4 separate regions of the Homo sapiens genome follow, and all the other regions are linked to region 2. The links come from fine-mapping of genetic effects on gene expression. A gene starts in region 2. Each other region holds a variant in brackets. All regions are shown on one strand. Distances are between the middles of the regions.

The links. PIP is the estimated chance that this variant, and not a neighbour inherited with it, causes the effect.
Region 1: its variant is fine-mapped to the expression of MYO9B in whole blood (INTERVAL, PIP 0.93).
Region 3: its variant is fine-mapped to the expression of MYO9B in skeletal muscle (GTEx, PIP 0.98). The same link has a PIP of 0.9 or more in tibial nerve.
Region 4: its variant is fine-mapped to the expression of MYO9B in whole blood (TOPMed, PIP 0.98).

What each region holds. Positions count from the first base shown.
Region 1 is chr19:17,094,619-17,102,522 of GRCh38, forward strand. MYO9B (myosin IXB) reads left to right here. Exons shown (of 40, transcript NM_004145.4): 2 at 7,042-7,904. The coding sequence starts at 7,100. Among named protein-coding and RNA genes, the nearest start is that of SNORA118, 6.3 kb to the left of the region's middle. The variant G/A (reference allele first, on the strand shown) is at 4,486.
Region 2 is chr19:17,073,116-17,080,549 of GRCh38, forward strand. It overlaps MYO9B (myosin IXB), which reads left to right and starts at 2,662. Exons shown (of 40, transcript NM_004145.4): 1 at 2,662-2,759. HAUS8 (HAUS augmin like complex subunit 8) reads right to left here and starts at 2,337. Exons shown (of 11, transcript NM_033417.2): 1 at 2,279-2,337; 2 at 159-220. The coding sequence starts at 2,307. RefSeq lists enhancers at 2,080-2,279, 6,644-7,181 and silencers at 2,460-2,809, 2,804-3,098, 6,532-6,631.
Region 3 is chr19:17,108,074-17,115,977 of GRCh38, forward strand. All of the region lies in intron 2 of MYO9B (myosin IXB), which reads left to right. Among named protein-coding and RNA genes, the nearest start is that of SNORA118, 20 kb to the left of the region's middle. RefSeq lists enhancers at 177-226, 2,259-2,368, 2,332-2,833. The variant A/G (reference allele first, on the strand shown) is at 3,701.
Region 4 is chr19:17,178,528-17,186,431 of GRCh38, forward strand. MYO9B (myosin IXB) reads left to right here. Exons shown (of 40, transcript NM_004145.4): 15 at 2,400-2,513; 16 at 5,302-5,341; 17 at 6,338-6,460; 18 at 7,394-7,474. Among named protein-coding and RNA genes, the nearest start is that of USE1, 33 kb to the right of the region's middle. RefSeq lists enhancers at 2,046-2,638, 2,639-3,230, 5,779-5,988 and a silencer at 2,733-3,027. The variant A/C (reference allele first, on the strand shown) is at 3,872.

The sequences.
Region 1 (7,904 bases), 22 kb after region 2:
AGTCACAAAAGGTAAAATTCACCATCTAAAGTGTGTAATTTGGCTGGGTGTGGTAGCTTAAACCTGTAATCCCAGCACTTTGGGAGGCTGATACAGGCAGAATGCTTGAGCCCAGGAGTTTGAGACCAGCCTGGGCAACATGATGAAACCCAGTCTCTACTAAAAATACAAAAATTAGGCAGGCGTGGTGGCATGTGCCTGTAGTCCCAGCTGCTCAGGAGGCTGAGGTGAGAGGTTTGCTTGAGCCAGGGGAGGTTGAGACTGCAGTGAGCCACAATTGCACCACTGGACTCCAGCCTGGGCAACAGAATGAGATCCAGTCTCAAAAATAAAAATTTGGCCAGGCGCAGTGGCTCATGCCTGTAATTCCAGCACTTTGGGAGGCTGAGGTGGGCAGATCACTTGAAGTCAGGAGTTCCAGACCAGCCTGGCCAACATGGCGAAACTCTGTCTCTACCAAAAATAGAAAAATTAGCTCGGTGTGGTGGCGGATGCCTGTAATCCCCTGAGATTGGAAGGGAGGCTGAGGCAGGAGAATCGCTTGAACCCAGGACGTGAAGGTTACAGTGAGCCAGGGTCGCAGCACTGCAATGGAGTGCAAGACTGTGTCTCAAAAAAGAAAAAAAAATTAAGTGTGCTAGTCAGTGCATTCACCGTGTTGTGCAACGACCAGCTCTATCTGATTCCAGAACATTTTCATCCCCTTAAAAGGAAACGCGGTCCCCATGAGCAGTCACTCCCTATTCCCCCTCCCGGAGTCCCTGGCAACCACCAATCTGCTTCCTGTCTCTATGGATTTGCCTGTTCTGGACATTTCATATCAATGGAATCATACACCATGTGGCTTTTTTGCGTCTGGCTTCTCTCAGCTTCATGTTTTTGGGGTTCATCCATGTTGTAGCACGGAGCAGTGGTTCCTTCCTTTTTATGGCTGAATCATACTCCGTTGTGTGGATGGACCACGTTTTGTGTATGCATTCATCTGCCGATGGACATGGGGTTGTTTCCACCTTTCGGCTATTGTGAATAGAGCTGCAGTGGACATTGGTGTACAAGGAATTGAGTCGCTGCTTTCTATTCTTTTGGGTCTATACCTGGGAGCAGAATTGCTACGTCTGTATGTAGTTATGTAATCTCTTTTGTCAGGCTTCTTCTTTTTTTTGAGACGGAGTCTCGCTCTTTCACCCAGGCTGGAGTGCAGTGGCGCGATCTAGGCTCAGTGCAAGCTCCGCCTCCTGGATTCACACCATTCTCCCGCCTCAGCCTCCTAAGTAGCTGGGACTACATGCGCCCCCCCACCACGCCTGGCGAATTTTTTTTTGGTTTTGTATTTTTAGTAGAGAAGGGGTTTCACCGTGTTAGCCGGAATGGTCTCGATCTCCTGACCTCATGATCTGCCCGCCTCGGCCTCCCAAAATGCTGGGATTACAGGCATAAGCCACCGCACTGGCCTTGTCAGGCTTCTTTCACTCAGCCCAACAATTCTGAATTGGTTTCCTATCACTGTGAGCATCAGGAACCAGCCATCCTGAACTCGTTGGTTCCTTCTCATTGTTGAACCATATTCCATGGTGTGGTCAGTGTGTTCATTCGGTGGGTGGACATTTGGGTTCTCAGTTTGGGACTCTCAGAAGTTACACGTCTCTGTCTCGACATCTGCTTCATTTCTCCTGAGTAACTCCTGAGAGGGGAATTGCAGGGTCACGTGCTAGGTATGTGTTTTAACATTGAAAGAAACTGCTGAAGTGTTTTCTAAAGCAGATGAGGGCCAGGCACAGTGGCTCATGCCTGTAATCCCAGGACTTTGGGAGGTCAAGGCAGGTGGAGTTCCAGACCAGCCTGGGCAACATGGCAAAACCCCCTCTCTGCAAAAAAAAAAATACAAAAATTAGCTGGGCATGGTGGTACAGTCAGAGGATCACTTGAGCCCAGGAGGTCGAGGCTGCAGTGAGCTGAGATCATGCCACTGCATTCCAGACTGAGTGACAGAGTGAGACCCTGTCTCAAAAAATAAAAAAGCAGATGAGCTGCCTCGTTCAGATAGTTTGTTGTTGTTGTTGTTGTTGTTGTTGTTGTTGTTGTTGTTGGTTTTTTTTTTTTTTTTGGAGACGGAGTCTCGCTCTGTCGCCCAGGCTGGAGTGCAGTGGCATGATCTCAGCTCACTGCAAGCTCCGCCTTCCGGGTTCACGCCATTCTCCTGCCTCAGCCTCCCGAGTAGCTGGGACTACAGGCGCCCGCCACTGCGCCCAGCTAATTTTTTGTATTTTTAGTAGAGATGGGGTTTCACCATGGTCTCGATCTGACCTCGTGATCCGCCCGCCTCTGCTTCCCAAAATGCTGGGATTACAGGCGTGAGCCACCACGCCCGGCCTGTTGTTGCTGTTTTTAAGAAATAGAGTCTCTGCCAGGTGTGGTGGCTCACGCTTGTAAATCCCAGCACTTTGGGAGGCCGAGGCGGGTGGATCACTTGAAGTCAGGAGTTCGAGACCAGCCTAGTCAACATGGCTGTCTCTACTAAAACAGAGAAACACTGTCTCTACTAAAAACACAAAATTAGCCGGGCATGGTGGTGGGCCCCTGTAATCCCAGCTACTCAGGAGGCTGAGGCAGTAGAGTTGGTTCAGCCCAACAGGCGGAGGTTGCAGTGAGCCAAGATCACAGCACTGTGCTCTAGCCTGGGTGATAAAGCGAGACTCCATTTCAAAAAAATTAAAAAAAAAAAAACAGCATCTCGCCCTGTTGCTCAAGCTGTATCTTAGATAGTAAAAATAAAAATAAAAATAAAAATAAACCAGGCTCTCAAAGCTTTATCTCATGACCTGGAGGAACATACAAATGCACTGACATATCAAGGAAAGAATTAGGTTTTACAGCTAAATGGATAAGACAATCCAAAATTTATTAAACTATACAGTATATATCTATTTCCCTGGGAGAAAACATGACAGTTACTTACTAACCTGGGGGAAAGTTTTAAGAGTTAAATCTTGTGTGTCCCCCAGCCTTCTTCCCTGTCGCCACTCCCTATCCCTGTGTGAACTGTTGCCTCGGCCTCATAAGTTATCGTTTCTTTCAGCCTCAGCCCTTCTAACACTTCTGCAGGAATTCTCAGAGCCTCTAGTGGCCCTGACCCCACTCAGTCACAGTGCTGAGTCATGCTTCTCTTTAGGGCAGAGGTCAGCAAACCTTTGCTTTGAAGGGCTGGATAGTAAATATTTTAGGCTTTCCAGGCTGTAATATTACAGTCTGTGCCTGAACTATTTCACTCTGCTCTTGTAGCAAAAGCAGCCACAGACAATAAGGAAAGGAGTGTGGGCAAGGCTGCCTTCCAGTAAAACTTTATTTATAAAAACAGGTGGTGGGCCTATTGTACCATCCTTTATTCTTCTACTCACCTCGTGAACGAACTCCTCTTCATCCTTCAGAACCCCCCCCCCCCACCTTTTTTTTCTTCACGATGGAGTCTCACTCTGTCGCCCAGGCCAGAATGCAGTGGCATGATTGCGGCTCGCTACAACCTTCACCTCCCAGATTCAAGCGATTCTCCTGCCTCAGCCTCCCAAGTAGCTGGGATTACAGGCACCCACCACCGTGCCCGGCTAATTTTTGTATTTTTAGTACAGACAGGGTTTCACCATGTTGGTCAGGCTGGTCTTGAACTCCTGACCTCAAGCAGTCCACCCGCCTTGGCCTCCCAAAGTGCTCGGATTACAAGCGTGAGCGACCGCGCCTGGTCTTAGAACCCCTCTTAGATATTCCTACTCCCCTAATGTCTTCTCTTGTCCTTTAGGATAATCACTCCTGCTGTGTGTCTTTTAACTGCTGCGCTGGATTCACGTCTACACTCACGTCTGTTTGCATACCAGTCTCTCCTGCCTGGCTTTGGGCCTCATCTTCACACCCTCAGCCATTCTTGGTTGACTCATGCCGCATTTATGGCTCTTGATCCAAGCCCCTAGGTGGGCTGGCACCAGCATTTCTTTTTCTTGCAACCTTCAGAAGCAAATGCACTTTTTAGGAATAAACTTGGCCGGGCACAGTCACTCATCCCTATAATCTCAGCACTCTAGGGGGCCTAGGCAGGTGGATCATTTGAGCCCAGGAGTTTGACAACAACCTGGGCAATATAGTGAGGCCCCCATCTCTACAGAAAATACAGAAACATTAGCCAGCATGCATCGTGGTGTGCACCTATAGTCCCAGCTACTTGTGAGGCAGAGGTGAGAGGATCACATGAGCCCAGGGAGATCAAGTCTGCAGTGAGCCGTGATCATGCCAATGCACCCCAGCCTGGGAAGTAGAGCAAGACCCTGACAAAAAAAAAAAAAAGAAGAAGAAACTGGGCGACCCTCTCTCTTAGGAAAAAAAAAAAAAAGGGCTAGGTGCAGTGGCTCACACCTGTAATCCCAGCACTTTGGGAAGCCGAAGTGGGTGGATCACAAGGTCAAGAGATTGAGACCATCCTGGCCAACATGGTGAAACCCC[G/A]TCTCTACTAAAAATACAAAAATTAGTTGGGCATGGTGGTGGGCGCCTGTAGTCCCAGCTACTCGGGAGGCTGAGGCAGGAGAATCACTTGAACCCGGGAGGCAGAGGTTGCAGTGAGCCGAGATCCGCCACTGGACTCCAGCATGGTGATAGAGTGAGACTCCATCTCAAGAAAAAAAAAAAAATGAAGAGGGTGAATTTTGGGGAGCTAAACAATCTATATACGTGGACATAACAGAGCAGAATAGTTATTGGGGACTGCAGAAGGTGATGGGGGGAGGAGGGTGAGGGTGAACAAATTTCCCGTTGGGTACGATGTTCACTATTCAGGCAATGTGTATCCCAAAAGCCCAGATTGGCCTGGCGCAGTGGCTCACTCCTGTAATCCTAGCACTTTGGGAGGCCAAGGCGGGAGGATCGTTTGAGCTTAGGAGTTCAAGGCCACCTAGCCAACATAATGAGAGCACTTTGGAAGCCCGAAGCGGGTGGATCACGAGGTCAGGAGATAGAGACCATCCTGGCTAACATGGTGAAACTCCATCTCTACTAAAAATACAAAAAAAAATTAGCCAGGCGCGGTGGCGGGCGCCTGTTGTCTCAGCTACTCGAGAGGCTGAGGCAGGAGAATGGCGTGAACCCGGGAGGCGGAGCTTGCAGTGAGCCAAGATAGCGCCACTGCAGTCCGGCCTGGGTGAAAAAGCGAGACTGTCTTAAAAAAAAAAAAAAAAAAAAGGCCGGGTGCGGTAGCTCATGTCTGTAATCCCAGCACTTTGGGAGGCCGAGGAGGATGGATCACCTGAGGTCAGGAGTTCGAGACCAGCCTGGCCAACATAGTGAAACCCTGTCTATGCTAAAAATACAAAAAAAATTAGCCGGGCGTGGTGGCGGGGTGCCTGTAATCCCAGCTACTTGGGAGGCTGAGACAGGAGAATCGCTTGAACCCAGGAGGTGGAGGTTGCAGTGAGCCGACATCATGCCACTGCACTAGAGCCTGGGCAACAAAGAGCGAAACTCCATCTCAAAAAAAAAAAAGCCCAGACTTCACCACTACACGATATATGTGTATAAGAAACCTGCACTTGTAGGCCAGGCGTGGTGGCTCACCCCTCTAATCCCAGCACTTAGGGAAGTCGAGGTTGGCACATCACCTGAGGTCAGGAGTTTGAGACCAGCCTGGCCAACATGGCAAAACCCCATCTCTACTTAAAAAAATACAAAAATTAGCCGGGTGTGGTGGCGCATGCCTATAGTCCCAGCTACTCAGGAGGCTGAGGCAGAAGAATTGCTTGAACCCAGGCAGCAGAGGTTGCAGTGAGCCGAGATCACACCACTGCACTCTAGCCTGGGCGACAGCACGAGACTCTTATCTCAAAAACAAAAAAAGAAAAAGAAAAGAAATTGGTATTGGCAGACTGCTACTTACCACCTTCCTGGTGTGCTTCTGGTGTCACTAGCTCTTCCATTCAAGCCCTCTCTCTGGTAGAGGATCCTTTCCAGGGAGTCCTATCGCATTGAGAATCTCCTGTGGTCTTGGACAGCTAGCTCCTCAGTCTTTCCTTGTTGCCCGTGACCTTGGCAGTCTTGGGACCACCAGCCATATTCCTGCAGGATGCCCCCAGCCTGGGCCTGCCTGATGTTCTTCTCCCCAGTAGTCTGGAGTTGTGGCTTCAGAAGCAACCACACTCTAGGCCATTCCCGAGTGCATTTTTCGTGGCTCTCCCGGACTTCATCTTCCTAGGTTGGGTTTCAAGGACCCTGGAGTTTTGGGAATCCCAAATTTCAGGACAGGTTCAGTCTTGCTCATCCCCACATGCCTCTCGCTGTTACTGCTGTGTGGCCAAGGCCTGTGGGGCCGAGTCGTCTTCTGCTTGGGGAGCTGCTGGGGAGGTTTATTCAGAGATGAGGTCAGGAAGGATGTGGGCTGGGAAGGGCATAGCAGAAAGAGGGTCATGGCTTGTTGGGCTTCAGGATTGAGAGGCTGCCTCTGGATGGGGTGGGATGGGGGCTGGGATGGAGCAAACTCAGGGGAAGGGTCAGGTCTTGGGGTTGTCTGATGATGTCACTTGTAAAAGCCACTGTATTTTTTTTTAAGTGACAGGGTCTCTCTCTCTCACCCAGGCTGGAGCACAGCTGGTATAATCATGGCTCACTGCAGCCTCGATCTCCTGGGTTCAAGTGATCCTCCCATCTCAGCCTCCTGAGGAGCTGGGACCACAGGCGAGCACCACTATGCCTTTATTTTTTGTAGAGACGGGGTCTCGCTATGTTGCCCAGGCTGGTCTCAAACTCCTGGCCTCAAGCGATCCTCCCACCTTGGCCTCCTAAAGTGTTGGGATTATAAGCATGAGCCACTGCAGGAGCCTGAGGTCACATTGAAGGACAGACAGACCCTCACGGGATGTCGTGACTGGTTGCCTCTGGCTTTTTGGGCGAGCCTAGTCGGGTGGGGAACTCCAGCATCGGGTCAGGTGCTATCTGCCCAGGAGTGGGACTCCACATGCCCCTTAAACTTCCTCCCACCATTCTGACCATGCCTGGCTCTGACCTCCCTTCTAGCTCCAGGACACGCGCGCCCCGAGCCTGGGAGGCATGCTGAAGCCAGGCGGCCGGCAGGATGAGTGTGAAAGAGGCAGGCAGCTCGGGCCGCCGGGAGCAGGCGGCCTACCACCTGCACATCTACCCCCAGCTGTCCACCACCGAGAGCCAGGCCTCGTGCCGCGTGACTGCCACCAAGGACAGCACCACCTCGGACGTCATCAAGGACGCCATTGCCAGCCTGCGGCTGGACGGCACCAAATGTTATGTGCTGGTGGAGGTCAAAGAGTCGGGAGGCGAGGAATGGGTGCTGGACGCCAACGACTCGCCTGTGCACCGGGTGCTGCTATGGCCCCGGCGGGCACAGGACGAGCACCCTCAGGAGGATGGCTACTACTTCCTGCTGCAGGAGCGCAACGCAGATGGAACCATCAAGTACGTGCATATGCAGCTGGTGGCGCAGGCCACAGCCACCCGGCGCCTAGTGGAGCGTGGCCTCCTGCCACGGCAGCAGGCGGACTTTGATGACCTGTGTAACCTCCCCGAGCTAACCGAGGGCAACCTCCTGAAGAACCTCAAGCACCGCTTCCTGCAACAAAAGATCTACACGTACGCGGGGAGCATCCTGGTGGCCATCAACCCCTTTAAGTTCCTGCCCATCTACAACCCCAAGTACGTGAAGATGTATGAGAACCAGCAGCTGGGCAAGCTGGAGCCACACGTCTTCGCGCTGGCCGACGTGGCCTACTACACCATGCTCAGGAAGCGCGTGAACCAGTGCATCGTGATCTCGGGTGAGAGCGGCTCCGGCAAGACCCAGAGCACCAACTTCCTCATCCACTGCCTCACCGCCCTCAGCCAGAAGGGCTACGCCAGCGGCGTCG
Region 2 (7,434 bases):
CCACAGGGCTGGGATGGCCAGACCCAGAATCCCCACAGGTGTGACTACAAGGAAGTAAAGCCACAGGCCCCCTTCTCTGGCCTGTTTTTTTCTTCCTCCAAAAGCACGTAATGAAAGAAGAAAACCATGTTCCTTAAAGAGATCCTGACACTGCTTACCTTGAACTCTTTTATCCTTCTTCTTGGCACTGCTAGAATTTGTGGGGCCGGTTGCAGGCTTCCTGCAAGAGAAGAGAGAGAGGTCTTGTTCACCTCACTACCCAAGAAGCACAGGGAAGCCGGCGAGGTGCCTCTGCTAGTTGAAGCTCAGACAGCCCAGTCCAAGGGCTGCCAGAGGACAATTTCAGTGAGGGTGGGCCACCTCAACAGGAAAAGGGACACAAGGAGCAGCCAGCCCTGGTCACCTGGGCAAGAAGGCATAGGTGAACACCCAAACTGAGAAGAGAGGAGGGTAATGAGAGCTCTGTGGAAGAGATCACAGCAGATCTCAAATTATCCCTGGGTTCATTCATTCACCAGACATTGATGCACCTACTATATTCCAGTAGAGACACAGTGGTAACAAAACACAGAGCTCCTTCCCAGAAAGGGAAGAACAACATCTTGACAGGCAGGTACGAGGAGTGGTCCCAGCAGGTACCTCACTTTGGGAGGCTGAGGCTGGCGGATCACGAGGTCAGGAGATCGAGACCATCCTGGCTAACATGGTGAAACCCCATCTCTACTAAAAATACAAAAATGAGCTGGGGTGGTGGCATGCGCCTGTAGTCCCTCCTACTCAGGAGACTGACACAGGAGAACTGCTTGAACCCGGGAGGCACAGGTTGCAGTGAGCCAAGATCACGCCATTGCACTCCAGCCAGGGTGACAGTGAGACTCCGTCTCAATAAATAAATAAATAAAAATAAAAATAAAAATAAAAATAGAATGAAGCCTGATGTAATAGGAAAGAAGGGACCCTGAGATAGGAATCGCTGACTCATCAGCTGTGGGGGTGCAGGAGAGGGAGAATCTGGGATGACTAGGGGTTTCAGGGTTTCAGCCTGAGCTGGTGAGAAAAGAAGGGATCCAAGAACAGACACCAGCAACACAGGAGGGGCAAGTGGATGGGCAAGTGGAGGGGCAGGGCCAAGGCCAGGGCACTGTAACTCCTGCTCCCATCACCAAAGGCGGCTCCACTGGTCCCTGCGGCCACCTCCTCTGAAGCAGGCTCCCAGGACCCCAAAGTGAGACCCAGACAATGTTGGGGACACTTCCAGGCCACCGTGGGGAGAGGCAACTTAGCAAATGTTCGCCAGGTGCCAGCAGCTGCGCTCGCCCGTAGGCTCCTCCTAACCCGACAGCTTCCTAACTGTTCACACCTGCTTTTTCGTCGCTGCAAAACAAAGACGCACAGGTTTTACATAGGTCACCCCCGGGGCAGTCTCACAGCCAGAAAGAGACAAGAGCACAGACTCCCTCTGGGGACTGTGCTAGGGCTGTGGCCTCAAACCGAATGGGCTCCTGGGTGAACCTGCTGCGACCTGAGGGGGGTCCCTACAACCTGTGCGAGCCTCAGCTACTGCACCTGTACCTGGGAGGTGCTACTGTCAATCTATCGGTTACGGCAAGGGGCGGTGGAGTGATTCCTCTTGCTGGCCAATTTCACTTCAGTTTGCACCTGGCACAATCAACACTGGCAGAATTAACAAAACTAGACAAATATAGCCTCATGATCATTCATGCCTAGCTCTCGGTCAGTATTCAACTTCTTTCTTGTTCATGGTGTGTTACCCTAGGCAAGTCACTTCCCCTCCCTGGGTCTCCATCATCTCCTCAGTAAACTGGGAGCACAGAATAAAGCGCGTGGGAGGATTAAAGGGGACACTTTGGTCGCCCAACACTTGTTCACTGCATAACGATAATTCCAAGAGCGACATCACAGTAAAGACCCAGGCGCCGATCTAAGCGCGTTTCAGCCTCACGCGACGCCTACGAGGTTGAGCTGCGTCATCGGCCCCATTTCGTAGCGGAGGAAAGCGAGGCACTGGGCGGTCAGGCCGCTTGCCGGAGGTCGCCCAGCGTCCCAGCCGAGGACGCGGAACTCAGGGCCGGTCGGGTGTCAGCGCTCCGGAGCATGCGCAGAGGCAGCACGCCATCGGGGTCTTCAGGGGCCCGCGCAGTTCCTGGCGGGGTCGAACCCGAACTCACCCCGAGGGTCCTAACTCCCCACCTCCGCTGCCCATCCTCTCCAGCCCTATGGCGTCTACAAATCCAGACCTGCGGAAGCCCCAACTCACCCAGCGCCTCGCCCCGAGGAATCCGCCATTTTCCCGCCTTCCACCTCAAGGCCCGACCCGCCGGCTTTTCAAAGCCGGACCCGCCCCCTTGCTTGCGGGTCGGACCATTTGTGGAGACGCAGGAGGGGTGGCTGCGAGGCGTGAGGCAGCGCCGGCTAAGTGTGGAGAGCGCGGCCCCAGACGCGCGCTTCGCCTGTCCTCCCCTCGCACTTGGTCTCGCCCACCATCGGCGGTAGTGGGTAGGGGCGGTGGGTGGGACCTGATCTGTCGGACAGTAGGGGCGGGGCTTTTCGCGATGCCCCGCCCCTAGGAGCGCTGGCGTCACGCCCCCGTCCCCGCCTCTCCGGAACCCGGAAGCGGGAGCGCGCGGGGGAGCGGCGGGCGCGGCGGGGCGGAGCGGCTCGAGCAGCGGCGGGCTGGCAGGCGGTCGTCCGGCCGGGGACCCGGCCCGGGACCGGCGGCGCGCGGCGGCCGAGGCCAGGTGAGTACCAGGCAGCCTCGGGTTGGCGACTCGAGCTCGAAGCCTGCCTTTGGGGGCTGCGCAGAAGAGGGACGGAGCTGAGGGCTGATGGGGGACGCGACGGCAGGGGTCGAGGGGGCGGGAACGAGCCTGGGGGTCTTGGAGAGATTGCTGGGGATGAGGTGGAAGCGAGACGGTGAAGGAGAAAGTGGATGGGGATGGAGCTGGTGAGGGAGTTCGAGGGCGTGGGGGGGGTGAGTCTTGTGGCTTTGAGCAGCTTCTCTGAAGAGGACGTGGCTTAAGTGGTAATTGGGGGGTCGCAGGAAACGGCGTTGTGGGGAGGCACGGAGGCGGGAACGAGAGGCCCAGGCTGGGGGAGTGGGCAAGGCCAGGGGCGGGACAGCCGGGGTGCGGTTGAGGGGAAGGGGTGCGAGACCGATCTGGGGACGTCTGCCCGCGCGATTGAAGGAAGGGTGTCTGAGAAGAGGGCGGCGCCTGGCCCCCAGTGGGCGCTCAGTAAATGCGGGGGGTTCTGAACTAACTGATGCGGCAGCCGGCTATTGGGAAGCGGGGAAATGGGAGCTGGAAGGGAAGTAAACGGAGTAGAAGTCACGGTAAGAACTGAGGGTAGGCTTAGGGAGGGAGGGCCCGGAGAGGAGGGAAGAGAAGGAAGGGGTTAGAGTGGCCCCGTGCAGATAGATGTTGAGATGCAGCCCCTGGAGATTCCGTCCCCCCACCCTCCCCTCTTGATTCGTGTCCCTCCTGACTTCACACTTAACAGCTGGGTGACCTGGGACGAGTCCCAACACCCTCTGTGCCAGTGTCCTCGTCTTGGAAACTTCACCACCCTCCCCTTAAGACAGGACTAGCAGGATTCTGGGATTCCCTGGATCCAAGGAAGGGACCTCAGGGCCGGTTGTGGGGCCGGAACTGTGTTTCAGGAGGGAGTGTGCATGCACCCTCATGTACAGGACTGTCGCCACCTCCGCAGAGCTGCATCCTTGGACTTAAATGGGTAAAACGACATACAGGAAATCTGTCCCCCGGTTGCTCTGAGCTCAGCCCTGGAGAGGCACGACAGCCACGAGCCCTCCTTTCTTTCCTGGGCACCCTGGAGGCCAGGGGTCTTTAAGGGATGGCTTCTCTGCCTCTTTGTCTGAGGTGGGAGCCCGTGGGGACACTTTCCAGCCAGAGAGTCCCAACTCGGTTTGTTTTTTGATGTTGGAGTCTTCAGAATCTTAAGGTGTCCAGGAGCAGCCGGAGGTGACCTGGGCTACAGGAAAGTTATTCACATCTGACAGGCCTGGCTCTTGTGGCCCTGGCAGGGACTTTGTGCAGGGTGCTTTTGATTGGCATTCATTTCTCCCCTTTCCCAACTGTAGGGATCTTTATCTGGGATCTGCCAGAAGGGCTGGGGAACCCCAGCTTATGTTTAGTTTATAGCTCATTCAGGAGATGAACCCGGATAGCTGGAATATAAAGAGGGCCACAGAAAGATAAGCACCCCCTTCACTTCCAGAATATCCTGGCCTTTAGGAAAGGTGGCTTTGGCCTGGCTTGCCCCAGGACATGCAGTGACAGCCCACAGTCATGCCTCCTGCAAACATTGAACTGTAGGCTTGCACTGGCCTACAGAACAGGACCGGGATCTTCTGATCCCGCAGCCCTGCAATCGCCTCTTCCCTGCCGCTAGAGAATGGCCAAGCAGGGTCTTGTGGGGGGAGCACTGTGTTGGAGATCCTGGCTTTGGTCAAGTCTCTGTGCCTGTTTCTGACCTCTCACCTGCAAAATGAATGAATTGACCTCCATCAGCGTTTTTCAACCTTGAAACCCAACTCTTCTCATCACCGTCTTGTCTCCAGTCCATGTCCCCCAGCTCCCGGCCTTGAACTCCTCACAGCACCCCCACTCTCCATTCCTGGCTGCGATGATCCTACTTTTATTCCGTTTTCCATTCGACAGTTTGTATCCAAAAATGATTTTTTTTCAACCGCTTCTTCATCGTCCAAATAGAAAATTGCGGTGTTGAAGGTGCTTTTGCACATTGCACCTATTCCCAAAGCTTTGGAAACTGCAAATTTCTGGAAATCCCGAGGCAGTACCGTCCCTCGGGTCCAGTCTGGTGACTCAGTGGAGCAGGTAGAGACGTGGGAATCTCCCCTTTCTGTTTGGCTGTAGGATTCGTTATTCTCTCCCCACATGGACTTGTTAACTTGCTGCTTCCCATTCCTCATCTCTTCCAAATGGTGTGTCTTGGGTGGGCCTAGATTTCAGTTAGGCAAGGGTTGATTGTGCCAGACACTTGGTAGATTCCTGGGGACAGAGGTGAATCCTTATGACCCAGAGGACGGACACGCTAATGCCCGCCCCCGACAACTTTGCACTTCCTCTTCAGAAAGAATGGAGTTCAAGCTGGGCCGCGGTGGCTCAGGCCTGTAATCCCTTTGGGAGGCCAAGGTGGGTGGATCACAAGGTCAGGAGTTCAAGACCAGCCTGACCAATATGGAGAAACCCTGTCTCCACTAAAAATACAAAAATTAGCCCGGCGTGGTGATGTGCGCCTGTAGTCCCAGCTACTCTGGAGGCTGAGACAGGAGAATTGCTTGAACCCAGGAGGCGGAGTTTGCAGCCAGCCAAGATTGCGCCATTGCACTCCAGTCTGGGTGACAGAGCAAGATGCCCTCAAAAATAATAATAATTAAAAAAAAGAATGGAATTCAGATCAGGTCATCAGTACGGTGACAGAGGGGCCACAAGATATTATGGGGGGAGAATTAGGGACAACCAATGCAAGCTTTAGGACAAGGGGGATTCCAGCAAGTTTCCTCGGAAGTAGTGGCTGGCCCCAGGTCAAACCTGGAAAGATACCACGTGTTAAACCACTCCGGGTGGAAGGGATTGCACAAGCAGATACCTTTGAAGCCCGGCCTGTACAGGGCATCCCAGCTCTCTCATTCTGCCAACCGGCAGTGCGAGGGTCCTTGTTCTTATCTTCCTGATACAGAAACAGGCCCAGGCAGGTGATGACTTCAGAGATGGTTCCTTGAGCTTTCTAGAAACATGCAGGATCCTTAGTAACCTTTAACTGGGGAAACCCAAATCTCCAGGGCCGTTTCTCACCCGCATCACCATTGACAGTTGGGGCTGTGCACTGTAGAATGTGGAATAGTGTCCCTGGCTGTCACCCATGAGATGCCAGTAGTATTCCATCCCCTCCAAGGGGTAACAACTGAAAATGACTCCAGCCATGGCCACGTGTCCCCTGGGGGCAGAATCACCTCCCCCGCCAGGTGAAATGTGATGCTCATTAGTAAAACCTGGTTCCCCTCTAGGGCCCATCATTGCCTTGGTGGGTCCTTGGTGTTTGTGGAGCCCCTGAGGAACTGCCACTAAGAGTGGGAACAGGGGCAGAGACCAGGAACTGAATCCTGCCATCCAGTCAGTTCTTAATCAGGAGGGAGCGGGTCTTGATAAAAAGGAGGAACCGTTAGGAACGGACTGTGGGAGGGTAGGCAACGTGCCCGAGGGTGGACAGCGGGTGCCCTTGTCTTTTCTTTGTCTTGTGACTGACCTGGATTTCTGGAGGAACTGTCCTCGTCTTAGAATGATCTGTTGCTTTTCTTCTGAGATTAGAGGTATTAGATTCTCTCCCAAGAGCTACTTTGGAGGTTGCCCCGGATAAACGTCGCTTTTGTAAGCTGCATTATCTCTTCCATGGGCCCTTTCGCCCGCCCGTTCCCAAGCACATACTGCTGAATTTTTGTTCTTGGTCCATCTTGCTGTCCCCTTCCCTGCTTGGCCCCCTCCTTGACCGTGACTTTGCTGCTTTACCTTGATTGGAGGAGACGCTCTGGGGCCACGGGACTGACGGTCCCTTCTGGGTGCTGCCCCCACACCCCACCCACCAGCCCTTTGTGTGCCCGGCATCCCCAGCCCAGCTGTGCCAGGCTGCCCCTGCTCGGCCGGCCATTCAGACGGCCCCAGGCGGCCTCTCGGCAAAGCAAGACAAGCCCTTCTCTTCTGCCCTCGTGGTCCCTGGAGTGGCAGAACAAAGGGCTCTGTCTCCACACCAGCCCACCGCCGCAGCCCAGAGCCCCGTTCCCTTTCAATTTCTATCGTGGCTGGGAAAGAGCCTCAGAGATTAGGCATGTTTCAGAAATGCAGCTGACGAGTTTGGGTTCTACTCATTTCCTCAGCGAGACTTTCTGAGCCCGAGCCCGATGATAAATAAAGTAGTGATTCAAGGGTTCAGCCCATGGGTTCGTCGGAGTGATGAATAAGATATCCTTGTCTGACTCACTTGTTTAAAACCCATCTCTGCCCTGCTGCACAGGGCTGTATGTGCAAGAGAAGGAGCCCCGCTAGGGGTGTTTCATGACTGTTGTTGCTGGGTGCCTGAGTTTGCTAGGGCTGCTGTAACAGAACCGCACGCTGGGTGGCCAGAACGACAGAAGTATATTGGCTTGCAGTTCTAGAGGCCAGACGTTTAAGATCACATTCAAGATCAAGGTGTTGGCAGGGTTCGTGCCTTCGGAGGGCTGTGAGAATCTGTTCCACGCCTCTCTCTGTTGGCTCATACATAGCCGTCTTCCCCTGGGTCTTCACATCGTCCTCCCTCTGTGCCTGTCTCTGTGTCCAAATTTCCTCTTATGAGGACAGCAGTCATATGGAAGGGGGCCCACCCTAATGACATCAT
Region 3 (7,904 bases), 35 kb after region 2:
ATGCCAGCAAAGCTCCCTCCAGCCTCCACGCCTGCACAGTCTCCAGTATGCCTTCAACAGCCATTAGTCACCCTCTGTGAGTCAGACCCCCGGTCCTGCCAGGCCAACCTGCTTGGGGCCTCAGCAGCGGGGGCTGGCGAGGCCAGTTTTCTCCAGCGGTTCTAAGCCGCTCGAGGGTGGTGCCCACGCCGGCTTCCAAAACAGGCTTGAGCCAAATCCACGTCATGGCAATAAACGTGCTTCCTGGGGCGACTGTTTGCAAAGGGATGTGATTGTCTTCACTGAGAGCTGGATTTCTCAACCTGGCTCTGCTGACATTCAGGGCCGGATCGTTCTCTGGGGAGGGAGTCATCCTGTGCATTGAAGGACATTGAGCAGCATCCCTGGCCTCCACCCACCAGATGCCAGGAGCACTCCCCACCCCGCAGGTGTGACACCCAGAAGTGTCCCCAGACATTTCATTGATTAGAGAGGTATTAACAAAATAGCTTCCCGTTGTCCCCTGGGGACAAATCACCCCCTGGGAATAGAACAGCTGTCTTTGAGTTCTTCCCATAAGACCCAATCACTGTTCATTGCAGCCACTGAGCTTTTAGAAATTATCTGTGAGTTCTTTCTGTTCTGTGCTAACTTAAGAGTCATTTTCTTTTTTTCTTTTTTTGAGATAGAGTCTTGCTCTATCGCCCAGGCTGGAGTGCAGTGGCACGATCTCGGCTCACTGGAACCTCTGCCTCCTGGGTTTGATTCTCCTGCCTCAGCCCTCCCGAGTAGCTGGGACTACAGGCGCCCACCACCGTGCCCGGCTAATGTTTGTATTTTTAGTAGAGACGGGTTTCACCATAGTGGCCAGGCTGGTCTCAAACTCCTGACCTCAAGTAATCTGCCCTCCTCAGCCTCCCAAAGTGCTGGGATTATAGGCGTGAGCCACCATGCCTGGCCCCAAGAATCTTTTTTTTAATTTTATTTATTTATTTATTTATTTATTTATTTATTTATTTATTTATTTATTTTGAAACAGAGTTTCTCTCTGTCTCCGGGCTGGAGTGCAGTGGCGCGATCTCGGCTCACTGCAAGTTCTGCCTCCCGGGTTCGTGCCATTCTCCTGCCTCAGCCTCCTGAGTAGCTGGGACTACAGGTGCTCACCACCACACCCAGCTAATTTTTTGTATTTTTAGTAGAGATGGGGTTTCACCGTGTTAGCCAGAATGGTCTCGATCTCCTGACCTCGTGGTCCGCCCACCTCAGCCTCCCAAAGTGCTGGGATTACAAGCATGAGCCACTGCGCCCGGCCATCATTTTCTAATAAGAGGAATAAGACCTCAGGCCCACTGGGTATCAGGGTTTGGGCTTCGTGATTTTCCTCCATCATCTCTAATCCCTCACGGCAGCTCTGCCCATTTTAAAGATGAGGAAACTGAGCCCCAGAGAGACACGTGGATGTGTGAGTTTCCTGAGGTGTCTATAACAAAGTATTACGGGCTGGGAGCCCTCAAACAGCAGGGGTTGATTCTCTCACAGTTCTGGAGGCCAGAAGTTGAAAATCAAGGTGTGGGCAGGGCTGGGTCCCTCTGGAGGCTCTGAGGGAGAATCTGTCCCAGGCCTCTCTCCCGGGTTCTGGTGGCTTCAGCCATCCTTGGAGCTCTGGGCTTGTGGCCGCATCACTCTGCCCTCTCCCTCCGTCGTCACCTGGTCTTCTCCCCTGTGTGTGTCCAATCTCCCTTGCCTTTCTCTCATGGGATCACCTCATCTCAAAATACTTACCTTCATGACATCTGCCAAGACCCCGTTTCCAGATAAAGCCACAGTCACAGGTTCTGGGGGTAAGGACTTAGACATGTCTTTTTTGGGAAGCCACAAGTCAACCCACTGCAGGTAGATTCCCCAGGCCACACCGCAGAGAGCCAAAGCCTAACCCGGGGTTTGAACCCGGCCTGAGCCCCAGCCCCCCGTTCAGGCTGCCTCTCTGCTCTCCCCTCTCTCGCCCGGGCTGCAGAAAGCCGGAGATCAGCACAACTCGCTGCATCGATTGGGGATTTTTTCTCAGCTCCCCGAAAGGAGAAGTTGAGCTGTTTTGAGGTTTGAGTGTCGCTGGATGCACCCCCTGACCCCCGCCCCCCGCGAGGGTTGCAGCCTCGCTGTGTAATGCTGACCAAAAAACAGGAAGGGAGCACTGTGGAAAGCCGGTTCCAATCAGCTGATCTGCCCGCCACTGCAGTTAACTGTTGCCATCACCTTTCACCAAGTCTAGGGGCTGCAGAAGCCATGAGTCTCCCCATCTTCCACATGGCCTCTAGCCTCCCAGTGCAGGCGCCCGTCGACAGCCCAGGGGCTGTGGATAGAGCACCTTACAGCATCGGCCATGGGGTCTCGCCGCAAAGCACACCCAGAACACGCTCCTCTCCCTTTGCCCACAGCCTCAGATCCACCAGGCACTCGCCTCGGTGCCCTTCTGAGAGCAGGCTGAGTCCAGGGGGCCAAAGGCTGGGGTTCCCTTCATCTGTCCTGAACTGTAGCAAGTGCAGCTGGCAGCTGGCAGCGTGCATGGGGTTTTCATTCTGAAAGCAGAAATAAAATAAGGATCCTTGCTTGTCAGGCTGTTGTCCCAAGGGTCCCTGGACTCCATGGAGCCCCTGTGGCCCGGCCCACAGTGGGACACGGTGACAGTGATGGGCTGCAGGGCGCAGAGGGACGCCCCCAGCTGGTGGAGCCAAGCTCACCCGAAGTTGTGCCGATGCCCAGGACATTCCAGTGAGGGACTGAGGAAGGGTCCTGAACGTGCCACTGCCCCAGACCCCCCTCTTGGGGCAAAGGAACCTAGGACTCGTACCCACCTGGACCGGGTCCTGAGCTCCTCCTTAGGGGCCCTACAAACCCAGTCTCATGTTTCCCCCAACTCCCCCAGCCCCTCTGCCATCAGCCAGGCCACTAGCTCTGTTCCCCCACCCACAGTCAGCACTGGGGTAGGTCACCTAGACCACAGTGCCATTATCCACTTCGACCTCTGCCCTCAAGGACACCTGCCTGGGCCACGTCCTTTCCCCCTGAGTCTGTCGGGCAAGACACAGTTGGATGCCAGCCTCCACCCAGCATTGGGGGCGTCATCTCATACGTCCTCACCACATCCTGATGTGGGCAGACTGACCACCCCCACCTGACATGTGAGGAAACTGAGGCACACGAGCTGCTCAGCAAGGGTGGCAGAGATAGAAGTTTCTGGAACCAGGTGTGTGTCAACTCTCATGCCTCTGAAGTTGAGGTTCCTGTTTAAGAGCTTATGGAGATATAATTTACCTATTTACTTATTTATAAATAGATACCTTATATTTATATCTACAGTTTATAAATATATAGATTAAATTGTATCTGCATTTTATAAATGTATAAATTATATCTGCAGTTTATAAATCTGTAAATTAAATTATATCTGCAGCCTCAAATTCCTGGCCTCAAGTGATCCTCCCACCTCAGCCTCTCAAGCAGCTGAGAATACAGGTGCACACCACCACCCCTGGCTAATTTTTTTATTTTTTGTAGAGACAGGGTTTTGTTATGTCACCAAGGCTGGTCTCCAACTCCTGGCCTCAGGCAAAAGTGTGCAATTCAGTGGCATTTAGTACACTCGCAGTGGTATGCAACCGTCGCCTCTATGCAGTTCCAGAACATTTCCATCCCCCTGAAAGGAGACCCCGTCCCCATCAGC[A/G]TTCACTCCCCACTTCCCTCTCCCAGGCCCTGGCAGCCACTAACCTGCTTCCTGTCTCTATGGATCTGCCTGTTCTGGACATTTCAGATCAATGGAATCTCTCACACTCTGTGGCCTTTTGTGTCTGGCTTCTCTCACTTGGTATCATGTTCTTGAGATTCATACACGTCGTAGCATGGATCAGTGCTTCCTTCCTTTTCATGGCTGCATCATATTCCACGGTATGGATGGAGGATGGACCATAATTTGTTTCTCTGCCCACCAGTTGTATCAGCATTTCATTCCTTTGTATGGCTGGTATGTGGTTGGGGTTTTCCTGGACCCCTGCCCCAGCCAGGCCAACCTCCCCCATCAGTGTCCCCCACAAGAACAATGTTGGGGAGTGGGGGGATTGACACTCACACAGAGGATCCCCTGGAGACTGTCATGAGCCCTGGGAAGGAGGAGAGCAGTCCTCTCCAGCAGGCTGCTTCGGGCGTGCTAATGGCTGGAGCCACCGAGGGACACCAGGTGGGACCAGGAGCCGGGGTGGGAGGAAGCAAGAAGGGGGCAGGCGTGCCCAGGTATAGCAGGGACGTCCAGGTACAGCAGGGACATCCATCTGCACGTTCTTCCCAGCCTGCTGAGAAGCCAGTGGCCAGAGGGAGGCTGGCTTCAGGGAGCAGGGCGGACGGGCCGGCTGGCGGGGGCCCTGGACTCGGGCAGGAGCGTTTGCACGTGGCTTCCCAAGTGCGACAGAGAGGGAGTCCTGGGAGCAACCCCAGCCGCGGGGATGTGCCAGATCTGAGGCTGATAGCTGAGGACGGACAGGTCCCAAGGGAGGAGGAGAGGGGGTCAGAGATGGCTGCAGGGGAACTGCCCGGAGGCCAGTCCTGGTGAATTTGGTTTGGGGTGCTTCGTTCAAGCAGCTGATGGGGCATCCAAGGGAGAATTGTGCACCAGCCACACAAAGAATCCCGCAGCCCCAGGGCTCATCAGGCCTCAGAGGCCATCCTGTCGCATGACCCAGTCAGAGAGGGGTCAGGGACAGACAGCAAGCTGGGGCACCTCCCAGCCAGGCACTCACCCAGCCCTTGGCTGTTGGCCATACAGGGAGGTGAGTTTGTCAGGAGAGGTAAGTGTTGAGAGGGGGCGTGTGGCTCCCCTCTCATTGGGGGGCATTTCAGGGATGAGATTCAGGGCATAGGCCACAGACCGGAGGAGGCTCAGGGTCAGGACGGGGCCAAGGCCTCAGAAGGCAGAAGTCACCCATGTCACGAGGAGCAAAGGGAAGCCAGCATTTGTTTGAGGAAGAGCAATACCTGCAGTCAGCACCCGTCTGTCTGTCAAAGGGTCCAGGAGCCCCCACTGGCTTGAGTTGTGTCTATGTTACATGAATGCAGAGGTATTTGAGGCTGAGGGTCTCTGAGACCACTTGTCACTTTGCTGGGCTGAGGGAGAAGGAAGGTGGGGCGTCAGTGGGCAGCAGGGTGGGCAGCAAGCTTGGGCTCAGGAGGGTCCGGGGCAGCAGCCTGGTGCACTTCAAAGGGAGATTGGAAGGCCAGCGTGTCCAGGGCCGGGTTGGGGAAGCAGGGCCAGGGTCATTGGGTGCCCGTCCTCCTCTCGGGTAGGCGCACTGCTGTGGTGGGGAAAGAGGAGGCAGAATTAGGGCTCTCAGGAGTTTCCCCCCTGCTCGCCCTGCGAGCGGTCAAGACTCAGGCTAGCCCAGGCCATCCGAAAGGCTAAACAGCGGGATGGTTATCCACACAAACATCTAGGTCACCCATCCACACAGGCAGGCGTGTGTGGAAGACAGGGTGGTGCAAGGACAGAAGGAGGAGGTACAATGTGGCCCTGACCGCAAGCTACTGAAGGTCCCTGAGGGGGGTGAGCTGGGCACCCCGGGCACCACAGGAAGCGAAGATAGAATCAATCTCTGGCTGCCTCTCCTGTGTGGCCTCCCCGGGATGTTTGCACAAAGGTAGGGGGAAGCAGTTTTTGGGGGCCCTGGGTCTGCAGAGCAGCCCAGAGGAGGAGATAGGAGCTGGGGCCCGAATGCAGGGCAGGCAGGAGACGGGGCAGGGCAAACCCCAGAGGCGACGAGAAAGCAGAATAAGCCATCATATAGGGTCAGTTTTAGACCTCACAGTCAGAAACCCTTGGGGACAGAGGCCAGGCTTCCTGGTCCAACCCAAGTTCCCAACCCCTGCCCTGTTGATATGTGGGCTGGATCATTCCGTTATGGCCAGGCCATCCTGTGCATCATGGGGGACTGAGCAGCATCCTGATCCCTGCCCACTAGTTGCCCATAGCACCCCCGCCCCTAGTCCCGACAACCAGAAACGTCTCCAGATGTTGACAGGTGTTCCCTGAGGAGCAGAACCACCCCCCAGTTGAGAACTGCTGTTTTAGGCCAACTGTATGACAAGATAGATTTCATTGTAACAGATGGTCTCTGCCTAAATATTTGTAGATTCTTTTTTTCTTGGTAACATTGTGCCATTGGAGTTACACATCAACCCGACCAAATTCGGCACGATTGTGGAGTGGCTGTTGGGCGTGGCGGGAAGCAGTTTCAGTCCGGCGTTCTCCCTCGTCCCTTGGGGGAGGTGACTGGTGTGCCTCCTCACCTCTCACTCATTGCCCACCCAGAGCCCAGGGGACGGTCACTGCTCACCCACGATCAGGCATGTCCTCGTGTCACCGATGATGAAGCGGCCCTAGGTGCGTGAGGATCTGGCTTTCCAAGAGCCTGCTCTTCCAGGTGCACTGAGTGACGTCTTACAATGTTGTTTGTAAGACTTGCTCCCCATGCCAAAAACCGCAGTCCCTGATTTTAGGACTTCCGCCTGCACTGAGAAGTAACATGCTCCCTGCTGGGGTTTTTTGCAAAGGAATGTAATCAAAGAGGTTTGCCGGTTTTCTGATCCAGGAGAGTGCTGGTTTGTGCGCCCTGGATTCTGTGGTCCTCCCTGTCCTCCTGGGGTGACTTCTTGAAACCTATGCCAGGTGCTGGCTGTGGCTCAGGTCTCGCTCCTTTAAGCATCTCCCCAGCAGGAAACAAGTCAAGAACCACTGCCGGGAAACAGGATCAGCGGCCAGAGATTCCCCACTTTGGCAGAACCATGACACGTTTCATTATCTCTTTTGGTTCCCCCAGTTGCTTTTCCCCTTTTTTTTTTTTTTTTTTAATAAAACACTTCGTCTTTTTAGTGTCTTTTCATTTTTCTTAACTTTAAAAAAAATTTTTTTTAGAGACAGGGTCTAGCCCTGTCGCCCAAGCTGAGGTGCAGTGGTCCAGTCATAGTTCACTGCAGCCTCAACCTCCTAGGCTCAAGTGAGCCTCCTGCCTCAGCCTCCAAATTAGCTGGGACTACAGCCACGTGCCACCACGCCAGCAAGGTTTCATTTCCTTTGGTATCTACCAGGGGTTGGCAAACTACAGCCCATGAGTTAAATCTGCCAGTGCCTATCTCTACAAATAAAGTTTTATTGGTGCATAACCATGCCCATGCATTTACATATCATCCCTGGCATCTTTGGCACCATGAGTGCAGAGCCGAGTAATTGCACCCGAGACACTGCATGGCCCACAAAGCTGAAAATATTTACTACCTGGCCCTTTATAGGAATTTTTTTTCCTTTGTCTACCCCAGTACATCCACCGCTTCGTAGAATGTTCCAGAACCCCATAAAGGTGACCATTTCACAGATGCCTTTTTTTTTTTTTTTTTGAAATGGAGTCTTGCTTGGTCGCCCAGGCTGGAGTTCAGTGGTGCGATCTCAGTTCACTGCAACCTCCGCCTCCCGGGTTCAAGCAATTCTCCTGCTTCAGCCTCCCGAGTAGTTGGTATTACAGGCGCCCACCACAACACCTGGCTAATTTTTGTATTTTTAGTAGAAATGGGGATTCACCATGTTGGCCTGGCTGGTCTCAAACTCCTGACCTCAAGTGATCCACCCACCTCGTCCCCCACAAAGTGCTGGGATTACAGGTGTGAGCCACTGCACCCGGCCCCCAGGTGTCTTCTTATCTTCTGCTCAGCTCCCCCTTCCCAAATGTAATGAAAGCAGCTTTCCATCCTAGATCCAGACAGCCCAGATCACCAGCTGGAATCTCTGCATTTGTATCCGTGCCATAGACATACATACGTATTCATAAACATCCATTTCCCCACACAGAGTCATAAAGCAGTTTGGGGAGTCAGGAAAGGAGGACACAGAT
Region 4 (7,904 bases), 110 kb after region 2:
AGTTCTGTCAAAAACATTTGTCATTTAGACATTCCTCACTAATATTTAGTTTGAAAGCATCCAGTTTTCATCTCTAAGGCATTCTAATTCACACACGGTATCAGTGCCAAAGTTTGCACCTCCGCGTGCGTGCTCAAGCCTAAGCCCACAGCCATCAAACAAAATGAAGCGAGTAAGGTTGAGTGCTTTGAGGGTAATTATCCCCTTAAACTAGGGTTTCTCTGGCCGGGCGCAGTGGCTCACCCCTGTAATCCCAGCACTTGGGGGAGGCATACGTGGGCAGGTCACTTGAGGATGGGAATTCAAGACCAGCCTGGCCAACATGGTGAAACCCTGTGTCTACTAAAAATACAAAAATTAGCCAGGCGTGGTGTGCACCTGTAATCCTAGCTACTGGGGAGGCTGAGGCAGGAGAATCACTTGAACCTGGGAGGCGGGGTTTGCAGTGAGCCGAGATCACACCACTGCACTCCAGCCTGGGCAACAGAGCAAGACTCTGTAAAAAAAAAAAAAAAAAAAAACTAGGGTTTCTCAACCTCAGCACTGTGCCAGATCATTCTCTGGGGTGGGCACCCGTCCTGTAGACTGTAGGGTGTTGAGCAGCATCCCTGGCCTCCACCCACCAGATGCCAGGAGAGCACCCCCACCCCCAAGTCATGGCAACCACAAATGTCTGCAGACATTGGCAGATGTCCCCTGATGGGGATGGTACCGCCCCGGTTGAGAACTGCTGTGTTCAAACTGTGGCTCTTGTATTCAAATTAATTCCTCCAAAGGCCTTAATGAAGCCAACAAGGAGATTGACATCTGGCCACAAAATCATGGAGAGAGACTAATTTGCTCCTCCCACAGAGACCCTCCCTAGGGTCTTTTTTCTGAGTCGCCCCAACTGATTTTTTTTTTTTTTTTTTTTTTTTTAGACAGAGTCTCACTCTGTTGCCCAGGCTGGAGTGCAGTGGTGCGATCTCGGCTCACTACAACCTCTGCCTCCCAGGTTCAAGCGATTGTCGTGCCTCAGCCTCCGGAGTGACTGGGACTACAGGCATGCGCCACCATGCCCAGCTAATTTTTGTGTGTTTAGTAGAGACGGGGTTTCACCATGTTGGCCAGGCTGGTCTTGAACTCCCTACCTCAGGTGATCTGCCCTGCTCAGCCTCCGAAAGTGCTGGGATTACAGGCATGAGCCACCGCGCCCAGCCTGTCATGGAATTTAAAAAATAAATAGGCTGAGCAGGGTGATGCATGTCTGTAATCCCAGCTACTCAGGAGGCTGAGGCAGGAGAATCGCTTGAACCTGGAAAGTGGAGGTTGCAGTGAGCTGAGATCGCACCACTGCACTCCAGCCTGGGCAACAGAGCAAGACACTGTTTCCAAAAAAAAATAAAATAAAAATAAAAATAAATTTAAAACTAAATAAATATCCCCAGCCAGGCGCGGTGGCTCACACCTGTAATCCCAGCACTTTGGAAGGCTGAGGTGGGCCGATCACAAGGTCAGGAGTTCAAGACCTCCCTGACCAACATGATGAAACCCCATCTCTACTAAAAATACAAAAATTAGCCGGGCATGGTGGTGCACGCCTGTAATCCTAGCTATTTAGGAGGCTGAGGCAGGAGAATTGCTTGAACCCAGGAGGCAGAGGTTGCAGTGAGCTGAGATTGCGCCATTGTACTCCAGCCTGGGCGACAGAGTGAGACTCCGTCTCAATAAATAAATAAATAAATAAATATCCCCAAAGGCTCTTAAATATGAGAACTTTTTCAGTGATCCAAATGAAAAGGATCGAATAAAGTGGAATGACCAGATGGAAATAATTTTTTTTTTTTTTTTTTTTTTTTTGAGACAGAGTCTCGCTCTGTCTCCCAGGCTGGAGTGCAATGGATGGCACTATCTCAGCTCACTGCAACCTCTGCCTCCCGGGTTCAAGCAATTCTGCCTCAGCCTCCCACGTAGCTGGGATTACAGGTGCCCTCCACCATGCCCAGCTAACTTTTTGTATTTTTAGCAGAGATGAGTTTCGCCATGTTGGCCAGGCTGGTCTCGAACTCCTGACCTCAGGTGATCCACCCGCCTCGGCCTCTCAAAGTGCTGGGATTACAGGTGTGAGCCACCGCACCCAGCTGGAAATGATGTATTGAAAAGGATCAATGATCTGTGTTGCCAAGTCCAATTTGCCTCAAAGCCCTGCCCCGCTCCAGGGCTTGGGGAGGCTGGCCCAGTCCCCATTTCTGGCAAAAGAGAGAGGGGCAGCATTGAGCACAGTGTCTTTCCCCCAGCTGCATGTTTTGGCTTCAGTGGCCTGGGGATGGTCCCAATGGCGCTGGGAACCCCGAGGTGGCAGGCCTGCTTCTAACTCCATCTTCTTTCTGTCACTGCGCCCCCTCCACCCCTCCCCTCAGCGATTTGCATAACCAAATGATCAAGAGCATCAAAGGATTGCCCTGGCAGGGCGAGGACCCCCGTAGCCTTCTCCAGTCCCTCAGTCGGCTCCAGAAACCCCGCGCCTTCATCCTGTGAGTCCCCCACCAAGGCCCTGCTTACAAGTGCGACAACCGCCTCCCACTACTCCTGCGACCCCGGCGGGGCCTGCAGTCTTCCTAATTTGCATCGGCCACTAAAACCACAGTGCTGTCTCATGGCCCACCCCCAGCCATCACTAAATGCCAATCAATAACACCCCTGGCCTCTGTCTGCACTGTGGCCCAGGCACAGCCGGCTTCCCAGCACACGGGGCAGCTTCCCAGGAGCACTCCTTCTTCGAGGCATCTAATTTTCCACCCGCAAACGTGCCATCCTCCGTCTCCTCCCCGTGCCTATCTGGCTTGCAGAGCAAAGCTTGCTCCCGCCTTTGCCACTGTGAGTTTGCAGAGAAGCCATCTGCAGCAGGGCATGCGATTTCCCAGAGAGGGTGGCCCTGATCTCTGCAGGTGGCCACATAAGCCAGTCAGGAGAGCCCAGAAGGTGCATAAACCGGTTTGGGATCCCGACTGTTAGCACACTGTGGGATTGAGTAGTCTCTGCTTTCAGCCTGCAAATGGGGTAATGACTCTCATGCTTCCATTATGCTGACCCAGCACCAGGCAGGCAGCAGCCTCAGCTGACAAGACATCCACCTGCGGTCACCACATCTCGCCTTTTAGTGGCCATTGGGGTGTGGGCTGGCTGAGAGCAAAGCTTGCACCTGCATGGGAGCCAATGAGAGCCAGTTTCTTTCTTTCTTTCTTTCTTTCGTTCGTTCTTTATTTCGTTCTTTCGTTCTTTTTTTGAGACGGAGTTTCACTCTTGTTGCCCAGGCTGGAGTGCAATGGTATGATCTCGGCTCACTGCAACCTCTGCCTCCCGGGTTCAAGCGATTCTCCCACCTCAGCCTCCTGAGTAGCTGGGATTGCTAACACCTGCCACTACTTCCAGCTAATTTTTTGTATTTTTAGTAGAGATGGGGTTTCACCATGTTGGCCAGGCTAGTCTTGAACTCTTGACCTCAGGTGATCCGTCTGTCTTGGCCTCCCAAAGTGCTGGGATTACAGGCATGATTCACCGCCCTTTTTTTTTTTTTTCTTTTTTAAGAGATGGGGGTTTCATTCTGTTGCCCAGGCTACAGTGCAGCAGTGAAACGATCACCGCTCACGGCAGGTTCGACCTTCTGGGCTCAAGCAATCCTCCTGCCTCAACCTCCAGAGTAGCTGGAACTACAGGTGCGCATTACCACACCTGTCTAATTTTATTGTTTGTAGAGGTGGAATCTTGCTATGTTATAGCCCAGGCTGTCAGGCTGGTCTCAAACTCCTGGGCTCAAGCGATCTTCCTGCCTCAGCCTCTCAAAGCACTGGGATTACAGGCATGAGCCACCGCACCCAGTGGGAGCCTGTTT[A/C]AAACTTCTGTTCCTTTTTTTTTTGAGGCAGAGTCTCACTCTGTCGCCAGGCTGGAGTGCAGTGGCTCAATCTTGGCTCACTGCAACCTCCACCTCCCGGGTTCAAGTGATTCTCCTGCCTCAGCCTCCCAAGTAGCTGGGATTACAGGTGTGCACCACCACACCCGACTAATTTTTTTCTGTTTTTAGTAGAGATGGGGTTTCACCATGTTGGCCAGGCTGGTCTTGAACTCCTGACCTCAAATGATCCGCCCACCTCGGCCTCAAACTTTTGTCCTTGTTGTGCCTTATTTTACCCCACAGGGATTCAGGTGAAACTGAATGCAACCACGGATGGCTAGGCATCTCACAGATCTACAAGTTACCATCTCCTTAGCCGGTCTTCAAAAGGCACCAGGCCTTTTGAATAAATAAATATATTTACTTATTTATTTATTTTCCCCCTTGGTCTGCAAGATTCCATAAGGTGTCTGAGAACACAGGAGCTATCCCCTTCCTTACCTCGGCCAAAAGAGCAGCTTTGGGTTTTGGGGGGGGTTTTGAGACAGAGTCTCTCTCTGTCACCCAGGTTGGAGTGCAGTGGCACGATCTCGGCTCACTGCAACCTCCGCCTCCTGGGTTGAAGCAGTTCTCCTGCCTCAGTCTCTTGAGTAGCTGGGATTACAGGCACCCGCCACCACACCTGGCTAATTTTTGTATTTTTAGTAGAGACAGGGTTTCACCATGTTGGCCAGGCTGGCCTTGAACTCCTGACCTCAGGTGATCCGCTCACCTCAGCCTCCCAAAGTGCTGGGATTACAGGCGTGAGCCACTGCGCCTGGCCAGCTTTGGTTTTCTTCTTTCCCACCAGCATGATCCTGAAAGGAGCTCCCACCCAGGCCCCATTTTGGTTATTTTGCAGGGCAAGTCCCTGCCCTGCCAGCAGAGGGTTCCAGAAGGGCCTCTGTGGGCCTGCTTGGCATCTACCAGCACATGGCAAAGACAGCCTGGTCACCTGGTCACCACCAGGACTGCTCAGGCTCCCTCCGCCCCACTCGGCATCCTGCTGTGATCTGGGGGATATGTCAGTTCCTCCATAGCAAGCCCCGCTGGATGCACGTCCCACCCTGTAGATTCCTAGCCAGCCCCTCCTACTTCTCAGACATCCGAATGGCCCCCAGACTAAACACTTTACTCAGCTTTGGGGCAGCCACCAGCAGAGTCCGGGTGCCGCCAACCCAGGGAAACTGGTGTCCACAGACAGTGGCTGAGGCACGCCACGGTGTGCAGCGTGGAGAGGTGGCGGTGGCCTTGTTGCACTTGCGCCTTCTCACTCTCTCCCCTCTCTCTGTGTCTCTCAGTCTAACCCGCCAGGCGTGGCTTGCTGAACTAACCCAAATCCCGACACTGTGTTCCTTTTGTTCACAAAACCATTTTTAATATTTTGACAGGAAAAGTAAAGGTATCAAACAAAAGCAGATCATTCCAAAGGTAAAAAAAAAAACACACCCCGCGCGACACGTTCCAAGATATCTTGCTTCTCTGCCCGTCTTGAGAGCTTTCACTTCTGCAACTTCATTTCCTCCTCCTTCCCACTATCTCCCCCTCCCTCCAAGAAAAAAAAAATGTTCTCGTGTTGAGATGATTTAGAGCTGTCTCTTTATGGGTTTCCCAGAAGCAGGGTCTGAGATGGGGTATTTGCACACACAGCGGCTTATGGAAGAGGGCTTACGTGAGAAGGCAGAGAGAAGGGGTGAGGGAGGAAGCTAGGGGCGTAAGCATAGCTGAAGTCTGGCCTCAGCCTGGTCCCATGGGGAGCTCTAGTGGGTTCATAGCACCACAGAGCTCATCCTGCCCCAACGTAATGGGACCCTTCCGTTTAACACCCCCATCTTCAGTCCCTGGCTACTGGGCTGCTTCCAGACAGGACAGAGAACCTCCCAAGCGCTCTGTCTCGTTTCCACATACAAGTGCAGCAATTTAAGAAATTTGCAAGAAGAGTAAGAATAGCCTTGCAGTCTAGTTAGCAGATGGGAGAGGGCTAATTCCTCTTGTCAGCTGATAGAACTGGCTGACACATGATGGTGGCCTGTCCGATGAGCTCATGCGGATGGCACAGAAAGGACCTGGCCCTTCTTGACTCAAGTAATGTAAACTGTAGGAGCTATGCAGAGGAGAGGGACGGCCAGGTTCAGTAGCACTGGCTTCCTCTCTAACCCAGAGGAAGAGGAAATGGGGCAGCCACTCAGGCTGTGAAAGAGGCTGTCATCAGCCCTCCCGGAACCAGCGCTGTGTGCAAGGTGCAAACCCACCTCATTCCACTGGGCCCACATCAATAGTGTGGTCCTGAGACCAAACCTAAGAGCTGCTGCCCGGGCACTCGCTGCGGGGACGCTGTTCTGCCCTGGCTTCGGGGACACCTGTGATGCCTCCCCGTGCCCGTGTGGGCTGTGGGAGGGCAGGCCGGACCCCATGTGTCTGTCCTAGAACCTACTGGACTCCAAGTCCCTGAAACTCATCATCAGCATGACTCTGCACGACCGCACCACCAAGTCCCTACTGCACCTGCACAAGAAGAAAAAGCCACCAAGCATCAGCGCCCAGTTCCAGGTAGGTGGAGCAGGAGAGGCAGAAGGTGGCGGTCAGCTCAGCCTCAGGCTTGTGTAGCTTCACCCGACACCGAGCACAGCCCGTCTCTAGTAAAAATACAAAAATTGGCCGGGCGCGGTGGCTCAAGCCTGTAATCCCAGCACTTTGGGAGGCCGAGGCGGGCGGATCACGAGGTCAGGAGATTGAGACCATCCTTGCTAACACGGTGAAACCCCACCTCTACTAAAAATACAAAAATTAGCCGGGCGTAGTGGCGGGTGCCTGTAGTCCCAGCTACTCGGGAGGCTGAGGCAAGAGAATGGCATGAACCCGGGAGGCGGAGCTTGCAGTGAGCCGAGATGGCGCCACTGCACTCCAGCCTGGGCGACAGAGCAAGACTCCATCTCAAAAAAAAAAAAAAAAGATACAAAAATTAGCTGGGCATGGTGGGCACCTGTAATCTCAGCTCCTTGGGAGGCTGAGGCAGGAGAATTGCTTGAACCTGGGAGGCGGAGGCTGTAGTGAGCCAAGATCACGCCATTGCACTCCAGCTTGGGCAACAAGAGCAAGACTGCGTCTCAAAAAAAAAAAAACAAAACAAAACAAAAAAAACACTACATCCGTGGTCCCTTCTGAGGTTGACACATGTTTCAAATCTCCAGAAAGCGTTTGTCTGGTCCTCCCCAGCCCCAGCCTTCCACCTGAGGCAAAAACAAGCACTGGTGGCCCTGGGACCATGGGGACCACATAACTCCCTCGAGGGTTTCCAGGGATAGCGCAGGCTTGGGTCAGAACGTCCAGCTGGAACCTCCTGTGTCCCACCACCAGGGACCCACATCTGTGCAGACCCCATCCACCCCACACTGATGCTAGAGTGTCCCAGGTCTGCTCCCACAGAACAGCGGCTGTCAGGGTCCCTGATTCAACCCAAATGCTTTCTCTTTCCCTTAACAGACATCCCTTAACAAGCTCTTGGAGGCACTGGGGAAGGCGGAGCCCTTCTTTATCCGCTGCATCCGTTCCAATGCTGAAAAGGTGAGTTTCTCTAAGGTGTTTGGGAGGAGAAGGCCCATGCCGGACTCTTAGGGGTGTCGGTGTCCCTGCATCCAGCCCCAGCCTCCACGCAGTATGGGGGACGGTGCAGCAGTCCATCCAGAGGCAGCCGGGGATGGAGAATTAGCAGTGAGGATGGTCCAAGTGGCCATTTAAGAGCAGGGACATCATCTGGAACATGGAGAGGCCCAGAGAAGGTTTGATTAGGGAGCGACAGGTCAGGGGTGCTTTTCAGATACATCCCAAAGAGTAGCCGGTGCAAGGAGTCTACCAGAAGGCAGAGGCTGAGATTACATAGCAGAGTCTCAGAGGCACACACAGCCCGCTGCTCACATTACAAGTTTCTAGAGAGACCCTTGGAGCCCCCGTGGGACCACCAGCAGGGGCTCCAGGCTCAGCACTGGCACAGGCT